3 linked regions of the Homo sapiens genome follow. The protein of the gene in region 2 interacts with the protein of the main gene of each other region in a pairwise test. Each region holds a gene or a part of one and is shown on either strand. Other genes may lie near its edges.

Region 1 (3,750 bases), on a different chromosome or scaffold from region 2:
TAAACCACACAGAACATATGAAATCCATGTTAACATTAAGCCCATTTATTAACAAGTATCTGGCCCAATAATTATAGTTAGGTAAATAAAATACTTCAGAACTATTTTATAGGCTGCCTTACAAATAAGATAACTGTCAAAGATGCATTCTCTTTATGTGAAAAGTTACACATGTTCTAAGTTTAACACTCCACAATGAACTGTGAAATTTCCCTAAGCTAATACTTAATATTGGAAAACTTCAACAGAATATTGGAAAACTTCAACATCATCTCTTTTCTCAAGCACCTTCATATTGCTCCCATAGTTCTTATAAATTGTCCAATAACCCAGACAAATTTCCTTGTGGACAAGAATTTTTAAAATTTAAAGTATTATATATTAATACAATGACTTTAGTTAAAAGTAAAAATTTATTGATCCAAAACTGCCAAAAACCTTATGCTAAGCAAAAACTTCATTTAAGCTTAATGCTCTTTTTAACTCCTGCACGAATGCCAGATAATTCACCACTATAACGTTGCTCTTCTTTACGAACTTCACGAACCTGGCCTCTTCTTCTAATTTTGGCTCTTCTGAACTTCTCTCTGTGTTTCACTCTGGGATTGCGATCAATCTTCTTTCTCCTAGGAGTAAGTCCCCTATTTTTAGCAATTTGATAGGTAATAGCTCTCTTTGCATTTTGATCTTCAAGAGCCTGTTCTTCAGTGCTATTTTCTTCTTTCTTTCTCTTTAGCTTTTGCCTGTCTTCTATTTCTTTATAGTACTTCAGTTTTGCTTTTTCATCAAAATCAGAATCATCAGAAAGATCTGTAACAGCACAGGCAGCAGCAGAAGTCTTTGAAACAGACTTTGGTTTGGGCTTGGTGGATTTTGCTTTTGGAATCAGTTCTTTCTTTACAGCATCATCCTTAAGTGTCAACAGATGACGAATTTCTGAGGACAGCTTCTGATCCACAACGGACAGCTTGTTGATCAAATTTCGGTAGGTAACAAGCCTTTCTATGACAGGATGTCCATGTGCTGGGACTCTCCTAGCTTTCAGGATCAAATAAAAACTGATGTTCGAGCAATAATTCAAGTAGAGGTTGTACTTGGTCCTCAAGTATTGGCTTCCTTTTCCGGGTGGAATGATCCCTTGTTCCACCAACTCTAACAATGGCTCCAGCTCATCCTTAACCTCTGTCAACTTGACTTTCAGGTCTTCTATCAGCTCCAAGAGTTCTGGTGATTCCTTTCGCAACATTTTCAGCTTCTCTTTCACTGAAACTTTAGCCAAATCCTTCACGACCCGTGTCTCAGCCTCATCTACCTGAGGCACTGGTTTTGCAAAGGCCTCAACCCAGGCGACACCAAAATCATCCTCTTGCAGCGCTTGGGCTAGGCGCCGCTGAATGATCTGTGCCTCCTCCTCCTCCTCTCTTTCCTCCTCCTCTGCCTCCTGTTGACTCTGCCGGCCTCGGGACTTGGAACCATAGTCCGTGTCATAGTAAAGTTTTTTCCTCTGACCCCACGACAAACTGGGATCCACAGAGGCCTCAGCTTCACTTTGCACGGAGCTCCCACCATCATCATCGGCATTCTCCTCCTCCTCCTCCTCCCCCGCATTCCCTCCATCTTCGTCGTCCTCATCGTCCATATCTAGGGCTAGCACCTCCTCCTCCTCCTCCTCGCCATCCTCCTCGTCTCCACTCTGTACTTCATTCCAGCCCTTAGCTAAGGCGGCCCGGGATCGTGCCTCATGAAAGTCATCTACCTGATCTTGGTAGTAGCTGGTGTCCCCTGGTGAGGGTGGCAATCCTAAATCATCTCCATTTTCGTCGGTGAGCGTGGGACCTGCCTTGGCTCGCACAGCTGCCCACTTAGCTGCTCCGCGCCGCCGGGATCTCCCCACCATGGCTCACAATCTCAGGTTTTACAGCGACTCCGGACTTTCGGCCACCACTGACTTCGGCGCAGGAATCAGGCGCTCCGGTAACTCGTGGCTCTAAACAGCAGCGCGCTCCCCTACCACCGGAGTTTGCAGACTCCTGATCGGCTACTGGAATTTCCTCTTCCTTCCGGCCCCCAGCATGCTCTCCGCGTGGCGTACGATTGAGGACTTCCGCTCGGTCCCTTAGTCGAGATCACGTTGATACCAACTTCCTTTTCACTGTGCCCTTTAACGCCAGTCGATTCCGGTGAATTAAAATCTTTCCGTGTGGAAACGATAGGATAAGGAAGTTCCGTTCCACAGAACGCTTTCTCGGGCTAATGCGCTTACTCTCGAGTGCCTGGGAGTGGCTGGGGGACGGAATCCTGACGGCACCTCCAGGCGAGGTCCCGATGGCCAATAGAGGGCGCTGCGCTTTACGCCCCGGAGAAGTCCCGGGGGCGTTCCATTGAGGTTTAACTGCGTGTGTACCCGGCGCTTGCGACCGGCAGTCTAGTGCTAGCGTAGTTTTCCTGCTCCCTTGTTTTCTCTTTTCTGCTTATCAGGCTGGAAGTTAATCAGATTGCTTTCCTCTCATTTCACCCCCACCCCCAATACCATATTTCTGGGTACCACAGCCTCAGGCAGCGCCGCTGGACTCCAGAATCCCACGGGAGGTTTCCGGGCGAGAGCGCAGGCCGGGCCTCCGGCTCGGGTTTACTCATCCCCATCGCCCTCTCCCTGCTCACAGGGCTCGGTGACCCGCTCCATGGGGATCGATAAAGCTAGATGACCCCGAGGCTGACAGTGGGAAGGCAGAGCCCCGCTGCAGGGTCTGACTCTTCTCAAGGAAGTCTGCCCTGTAATGTTAGAGTAATTCAGGGTGTAAGTTTTTAGGCATTACATATGTAAGGTTCAGGGTTAGTATTATTATACCTTTTAATGTAGGTAGTTGGAAGCTGAACTTTTGATACGTTGCTAAAATTAATGGTGACATGGCTGGGCGCGGTGGCTCATGCCCATAATCCTAAGCACTTTGGGAGGCCGAAGTGGGTGGATCACTTGAGGTCAGGAGTGCAAAACCAGCCTGGCCAACATGGGGAAACCCAGTCTCTACTACAAATACAAAAAATTAGCGGGGCGTGGTGGCGGGTACCTGTAATCCCAGCTACTCGGGAGGTTGAGGCAGGAGAATCACTTGAACCCGGGAGGCGGAGGTGGCAGTAAGCCGATATCGCACCACTGCACTCTAGCCTGGGCGACAGACAGAGACTCTGTCTCAAAATAAATAAATAAATAAATAAAATAAAATTAATGGTGACAATTTCTTTTTCTTTTGTTTTTTGTTTCTTTTTTCTTTTTCTTTTTTTCTTTTTTTTTTTTTGAGACGGAGGCTCGCTCTGTTGCCAGGCTGGAGTGCAGTGGCAATCTCGGCCCACTGCAACCTCCGACCCCCTGGTTCAAGTGATTCTCCTCCCTCAGCCTCCCGAGTAGCTGGCATTACAGGCACGCGCCACCACTCCCAGCTAATTTTTGTATTTTTAGTAGAGACGGGGTTTCATCATGTTGGCCAGGATGGTCTCCATCTCCTGACCTCGTGATACGCCCGCCTCGGCCTCCCAAAGTGCTGGGATTGATTACAGGCGTGAGTCACCGCGCCCAGCCAATGGTGACAATTTCTTTTCAGAAAGTATAGTGTCATTAGGTTAATAAAAATAATGCAAAATGTTAGAAAAGTGATACTTTGAAATAAACATTTTCCAAGTGCCTAAAGGTGTCCGAAACATTTTGAAATTTTTACAAGATTTTAGAAAATAAAATTAAATTAGAAAGTTGTG
Region 2 (3,750 bases):
TACTTAGTAACACTGAAAGGTTAAAAATAGTACCTTTTATTATGTATATCTTACCACAATAAAAAGCCCCACAGGGTAGTCAATGTTATGTTTAAAAGAGAAGAAATAAATGGGAAGTCATTTTAGATATGTATTTACACAGGTCTTAGAAGAGCTATTCAGCAGATGAGTACCTAATGAACTGGAATTTTGGCAGAGATCCTGGGAGTGAAGTGAACCAAATCACTTGGGAAGTGTGAAGTAATTTCCTCCTCCAGGGAGGTCAGCAGATAGAACATGTGAAGCCAATGTTAAGATTTCTCTGGAGTCTAAAAGATTATCAAATTGGACAAGTCTGTTCTCAGTGTTTTCCAACAAGGTGCAACTGACGTTTTGGACAGAACAACTGCTTCATCCTGTAGGACTCTCCTGCCTGCCACATGGTACTTAATACCCCTGAACTCCAAACCACTTACCAGGGGCATTCCCCTCACCCTCATCACTCTAACAATCAAAAAGAAACCCACCCACGTTTGTTACCACGACTACCATGACCCCAGATCACTCAGATGACAACCACAGAGTGATTGAATCCAAAACTGAAATAGGAGCACCCTGGTCTGTTAGGATATGACAAGCTATAAAGCAGTAGCAAACAACCCTAAATCTCAATCAATAGCTTCAAACCAAAAAAAAAAAAAAAAAAAAAGGCTTCCGTCTTGTTCACATTACATGTCCATCACAGGCCAGCCCAAGGCTCTATTCCACACTGTCCTCACACCAGAACCTGGGCTGATAGAGCTACCACTCTGCAGAATGCTGACAGATGCAGTGGCAGAGGGAATGAGATACAGTAAGTGGTATGCTGGCATTTAAATAATTCACTTAGAAGTGACATATAGTACTTCTCATATTCCACTGGCCAAAGCAAGTCAAATAGCCTTGACTGTTTCAGGGCCAGGAAAGTGCAACCCTACACCACTTACCTGGAAGGAAAAGAACCAGCCCTGATGACTTCCAAACTATGCCTGCGAAGTGCTCTGAAAAGTAGAAAACGCTATATAAATGTTAATTAAAAGAGTATATTACTAACAATACTACTTTGCCCTTCCATCCATTCAATGGATATTTATTAGGCATCTAATACATGCTGGACATCGTCTCCTAAGCATCAAATATATGCCAGACACCATGCTAAGAGAGCTGATGAAAACTGAGTCGTAAGTGGTAGGGTAAGAGAAACAATCTTTAAACAATTCCAGTGTGGTATGATAAATGTGATCAGGGAAGTCAGCCCAGGTACTCCAGAAGTTCCCAGGGCGAGCACCTGAGCCAGCGGTGGGGGCAATGGATGGGAAGACTTCCAGGAGCAGTAACCTACATAGCTGCAGGATGCAGTCACCCTGGAGAACCTGCTGTAGATGCACAGGTGGAAGCATGAATGTGGGCGCTGTGGATGGGGTGTCCCTGCCTTCCGCCAAGTCAATGAGACCAACTTGCCACAAATTCCCCATAGCCCTAATCTGCAGTCACTTCCACTAAATGTCCACTGACACATTTATAGGTTTTCTTGGTTTTCTAGGCAGACCGGATGTAAAGAACAGATTTCTGGGACTACTCTCCACTTTCCCCCCAACTAGAACATTCTATGAGATGCTCTAAGTTCAAGGAGACAACATTCTTTCAGTCCAGTTATCATAAGCTTGGTTCTAACCTCAGCAAAAACTGCTTTCTTTCAGCTAATATAGCGCAACAAAAGGGGAAATGCCCTAGGAAAACAATGTGTCAGAGGCTCCTAACCATTGAAAATCAGGCACATTCCCTTTATGAGATATTAAATACATTATAAAGAGTTATTAAAAATAGTGCAGACTCCAACACAAGCCGTAAGATATACAGTATACCACCCTGAGATATTTATTTCCTCTAATAAAGAAAAAAATATTTTTTCAACAGAAAATACATAAAATACACATCTAGAAACACTAGACAGTCACTAAAAATGAAAACTGTAAAGATCTCTACGCTACTAGGAAAAGTAATGCTGATAGTGCTAAGGAAAGCAGATTCCAACAGCAATCATACTGTAAAGGTTAGACAAAGATGACGACTGTGCTACAGGCAAACACTTCATGGAAACTGCAGAAAATGGGGCACGGAGAGTAGGGGAAGCAGAGAAGTGGTTCAGTGCAGCTTACGGTAACATGTTATTGTTTGTACAATGCAAATTTCACATAAAAGTCATTCCTATGTAAAAGCTTGGTGGATCTTATTCACATTCCCAAACTGACTTTTACAGGCAGTATAAAGCATAATCTGGTGAGTTCCTAAAAAAGAACCAGACTAGCTGCTGTTAACACTCCAGCCCTTCTAGTTAAAGGGAGGAGGGAACAGGGCAAGTTTCCTGACTCACCAAGGCCCGGTGATTCCAGCAGCAAGGGCCAATTCCTTACAAATTGCCCTGAGCAAATTAGTCAATTTAGCCTTATCTTTAAAAGGCAGATAACACAACCTACTTCACAGAACTACAGTGGGGATTAAATCTGATAACTTTTAAGTACTTAGCACAGCATGACTTTTAAAAGGAAGTGATAGTTTCCATTCCTTGGGGGCAAAAAAGGATGGCTCTTAAGGTCTCCCTCTACTCTCCAAACCCAAGGTCCCCCAGGTCCCCATAGCACAGAGCAGGAGCCAGCTGAGCTCTGGCAAAAGCAGAAGAGGAAGGGAGTTCAAGCATGGCCTTCTGGTAGAGAGTGTGGGGAAAGAGGCGTGTTTTCTGTGTCTTTGTTCTTCCACCCTACCAATGCCTAGCACATAACCGGTGCTCAACTGACTATCTGATCAGTGTACTAACCCAGTCAGCAAGCCCTCTATCCTCAGCTGATGATCATGAAGGAAAACAGGCAGGAAACATCAACGATTTATTTGAACTAAAGCTCAGGCCCCTTGCACTGTGAGACTCCACACTTTATTTCTGTGCTGCATGCAGGGTGCTAGCATTTACTACTATGGAAGATACATTTTTCTGAGTGTTAACTTCAGTGGTATTTACCAAATATGCCTCTGAATGGTCCTATTTCAAAAAAACTACAGAAAGCACTGCTTTTCATAAACAAAAAGAACAAAATGGCCCCAGTAGTATTTTCTTATCTCTATCCCTACCTACTTTAAGTAGCCTGTAATCTATTCCATTTTGGTGAATAAAGCCGAGTCTTTTCTAAAACAAAACTGTATACTGGAGGTAAATATTCTAAAACATAACTTTGAGTAAAGGAAAACTCTCAAGAGCAGTTTAAATGTAATGCCTGGCTTATTCTATTCCAATGATGTTCTAATCTTTTTCATTAATTTACTCTAATGTTTGTAATTGTTTTAGGCCACAATTATCTCATTGTTTCCTGGCCTGTGTACCTGATCAGAATCATTATGATCTCTGAGGTTTTCGCCTGATTTTTGAGAATCCTGCTCTGCTATGGATGGGGTAGCCAGCAGAACACAGAACAACCAAGGAGCGTTTTAAATACAAGACTATTAGAGTGGCAAATCATTGTCCTTTCTGTGACCAGCTTCTGGGGCTCTGGAATTACATGTTAAACAACAGGATCAGATGGGAGCACTTTGCAGCTAAGAGACCAATACCAGAAAAATACCCCTTTACCCCTTCAACAGCGTGCTCCTGCCTATTTACAAGAACATTTAGCATCATTTCCTTCTCAAATGGGCCATCCTGTACTCTGGAGCTAGAACAGAGTACGAGGAGAACACTGACAT
Region 3 (3,750 bases), on a different chromosome or scaffold from region 2:
CTCTCTCATTCGCTCACTGAATCTCATGTCCAATATACTTCCTTCAGAAGAGGCCGTAAGCCCCCACGGCTGGCAGGAACATTCCCCACGAAGCTGAGGCTGGTAACCCTTCAGCTGGGTGTTAATGCCTTCAAGTGGGTCCACCTGGCTACTCCACACCCAACTGGTCCTGCATGCGGCCCAACACTGAGAGATTTTAGGACAACCTCTGGTCTCAACAACAACAGCAAAGCAAAAAAGAATGATGTCCTATTAATGGTCAGGACTTGCCTTGCCAGGGCTAGTGTTAAGCACTGCCTACTTGAGCTGACATCAAGTATCCTACCTCCTCCAATCACATGGGTACCCCAAGCGGCCTCATTCATTCCATCAGCTTATTCCTCCAGCCAAACTCAGTGAGGTATGAAAGAAGGGAGAGGCAAGGCAGAGAGACAGTTCTGATCCTCGCTCCTCCAGGAGCTACACAGGTGATCACGCACACATCACTATGAATATTTCCCATATACCTAATATTAACCTCTGAGAATATTTCCTCTTTCCAACCCCTCTCAGTTTCATGCCTCTGCTCCATCTTTTTAAAACACCATCTTTTTAAAATAGTCAATGGGAAGCACAAACAATTTCACACAAACTCTACACACCTCCTAATTAATACATTTCTTGGCCTTCAAATCTAACTGGTTTTAAATAAAATAAGAAAGGAAATTGTCAAGGCTGGCAAAGAACACTGAAAGGATAAACTGCAAGCCCCTACCCGCCATGGAAGTTTCAGGAGGGTTGCAAAGCTTAAAGCATAAAGCATACTGCCTCTTTTCTTTCAGGTATGAAGGATACATTTAATTGGGCGCAGTGGTGGTGGGTTGGCTGGGGCAAGAAAGTGTTAGTATTTCGCTTAGCTTTCACATCATTTTGTGAATCCTGCAAATAAATACTCCCTAAAAAGAAATTTGAATTCACTATGAGTTAATAGACTTAGTTTCTAAATGTGGCCAATTAGAAATTGATAAGATAGATACAATGCACCACGGCATAAATATTGCTTGCATTTACACTTAGAGTTCAAGACACATAAATAGGTCCCCAATCAGAGTTCTGAAGAAAACAAAAGAATGAAAAGAAAAGGGCGGGGGGGGGAGGGCGGCGGGTAGAAAAACCAACAACAGTCATTTCCAAATTACACCCTTTAAATTATACTCAAATTATGAAAATAGAAAATGATTGTGCAAAAACCCAAAAAAAATTTTTTTAAGGAACAATATGAACAAGGGAAAACCTTAAAAGAAAACCATCTTGCACTATTTTGCATAGAAAATTCAGTTCTGGTGGATTTGGGCTGTGTCTGTAATGCTTGGAGGGGACAGGGATGGACCAATAAACAACCTTGCATGCTCATATTTGTAGCCAGCGCAAGGAGAATCCAAATATACCACTATTAAGAATGGGTGTTGGGATTCACTGATACACAAACTGTTCAGCTCGGCGGTTAAAAAAAAAAAAAAACACCAACATTAAATAAATAAATGAAAAGGGTGATATGTCTAAGCAGAACTGATGCTACCTATTTATTGCTGGAAGCCAGTACTCTGGTGAGTAGGAGACAAAATGATTATTTAAAAGCTCCTTTTTATCTCTGCAGCACCATGCAAGACTCAAATGAACCTTTCGCCAGGACACCAGAGATGTTAACACTCATCCTCCAAGATCCAATTTCAACCAGCGGAGCTGTTACCTAATCCAGCAACCATCACATATGATCAGGTTCCTGCTTCCCTGATGGGTGCCCTGCGCTCTCTCCCTCCCCCTCATCTCTTCCCTCCCCACCCCAGCAGCTTTTTTCTGAAATAGGTTTTAAAGGGCCAAATCCCTTGTTTGTCCTCATGCATATAGGGTTTTAATGGCCAGGCAGGCCCGGACGCGTCCACTACCCGAAAAATGTCATTGATTGCAGTGGATATGCAATCTGCAGAGGGGTTGCGCCCATGAAGATATTTAACCCATTTGGTAATCATTCTTACAGAAAGAGTTTCCTTCCCACAAATCCACCCAATTATGGAAGAGACCAGTTGAGACAGGTAGGTGATTTATACAGGAATTGTCACAAGTCCTTTAAAAAGCTTCTGATGTCACATGTACCTTGCTGCCATCGCTTGCCCTGGGGTTAATTCTTTGGTAAAAGTCCTAAGATAAAGGGACTGTCACAGCATTGTGGGAGCTGCTCTCACCACTTGTCTCCTGCTGTTCTTTCTTTCTTTTTCTTCACACAAGGAGAAAAACAAACCAAACCCAAAGGCATAGTCAAGATCATCCTTGGCGGGAGGGCCGTGTGGCGGGTTGTTTTGTCCTTGGCTGAGTGACGTGGGTCCGGAGCAGCTCCAGCCAATGCCCACTAGAGGGCACTCTTTCTTCACCAAGGACTGGTTCTCCAGGCGGGCGGACAGTCAAGTGTCCAGGTTCATGCTGGGGGAATGCCTCTGCTCAGATTCAAACTTCCACAGGTGGGGGCAGGTTGGGAGGGGAGGAGGGCAGATCTACAGGGAGGGTGGTCTTCAGATTTGGACAACAGTCCAGGGGCCCAAAGCTGAGCTGAGAGAGAGAAACAGATAAAGAACAAGACAGAAAGCAGAGGCAGGTGGTCTGGGGAAAGGCACAAGGTAGCCTCCCAACGGTGTGTGCAAAAAGGCAGGCTCTCTCTGGCTGATCTCTTTGTTTGATTTGTAGGCACAAACCTCCATGCAGAGTGTTCTATTGCCCAGGAGCTCAGTCTTTACCACATCCTACCAGAAGAGTTAGAAAAGAGAGACCAGCTCTCCCCGCCTCATTCCCAAGTCAGCTATGCAGTTTTAGGAAAAGAGCAAAATGCTTGCTTCCTGAGAGCATCAGAGTTATACCTTTTATTTGTTCATAAAGTACTTGCACGCACTGAATTACATCACCTTACAAAACATGAAGTAATGTTCCAAACTTACATAGCAGATAACCGAAGATTATAAAGGCAAAGCACATTTCCCCAAAATCAAAGCAAATGAGACACAGCCGACACTGAACTCTAGATCTTTAACTCTCAGACACTTCAGTCCTCTACAATATTGGAGTTCTGAATCCTTTTCACAACAGGCAGCTACATGGATGTGATATCTATTCTGTGCGTGTGTGTGTGTGCGCGCGCACACACACACACACACACACACACACACACACACACACAGTCTCTTCTGATGCCCAAGGCACACCGATACTCTGGCCAAGAAGAAAACAATCAGATAGTAATGGAAAGAAGGAAGTTTTTTCTATTGATTTCCTAATTTCTTTTAATTTCTCTAAATCTGGTCCTTTCCCATTACCTCTTTCCACCATCATGGTTAGAGCCACTGTATTGGGTGATAGAATGCCCTCTTCTTTCTCAGCCACAGAAATCCACTTACTACAGTCCTATTTCATTTTAAATCTCAGCTCAAAATCCTTCATGAAATCTGCCCTGACGAGAAGAGCCGAAAATGATCTCTAAGCCTCTGAGGCACCAGGGCACGTACTGCCTAGACCACAGCCATGGGGCATCTCAGGACATGCCAGGGCACACCTACCATCTTGCCAGCAAGACTGTGAACTCCTGAAAGGCGGTTCCCCACACAACCTCACAGGGCCCCTGACACTAAATGTCTGTTCCAATATTTCTTAAGAGCAATATAATAAAGAATCAAGGAGGGAAGATACGGGCTGGTGAGATCCAAGGATCTGTGCCTCAGCTTCCTG

Evidence for each region.
Region 1: the proteins of CDCA7L (region 2) and UTP3 interact in binary tests that used the Homo sapiens proteins (3 or more experiments, as listed by UniProt).
Region 3: the proteins of CDCA7L (region 2) and PBX1 interact in binary tests that used the Homo sapiens proteins (3 or more experiments, as listed by UniProt).

What each region holds. Positions count from the first base shown.
Region 1 is NC_000004.12:70,686,825-70,690,574, reverse strand, and holds UTP3 (something about silencing protein 10), read right to left. Parts: upstream 2,044-3,750; 5' UTR 1,898-2,043; coding exon 458-1,897; 3' UTR 24-457; downstream 1-23. UniProt on the Homo sapiens protein: Essential for gene silencing: has a role in the structure of silenced chromatin. Plays a role in the developing brain. Part of the small subunit (SSU) processome, first precursor of the small eukaryotic ribosomal subunit.
Region 2 is NC_000007.14:21,939,297-21,943,046, forward strand, and holds part of CDCA7L (cell division cycle-associated 7-like protein), read right to left. Parts: intron 1,020-3,750; exon of another isoform or gene 966-1,019; intron 1-965. UniProt on the Homo sapiens protein: Plays a role in transcriptional regulation as a repressor that inhibits monoamine oxidase A (MAOA) activity and gene expression by binding to the promoter.
Region 3 is NC_000001.11:164,786,137-164,789,886, reverse strand, and holds part of PBX1 (pre-B-cell leukemia transcription factor 1), read right to left. Parts: intron 1-3,750. UniProt on the Homo sapiens protein: Transcription factor which binds the DNA sequence 5'-TGATTGAT-3' as part of a heterodimer with HOX proteins such as HOXA1, HOXA5, HOXB7 and HOXB8. Binds to the DNA sequence 5'-TGATTGAC-3' in complex with a nuclear factor which is not a class I HOX protein.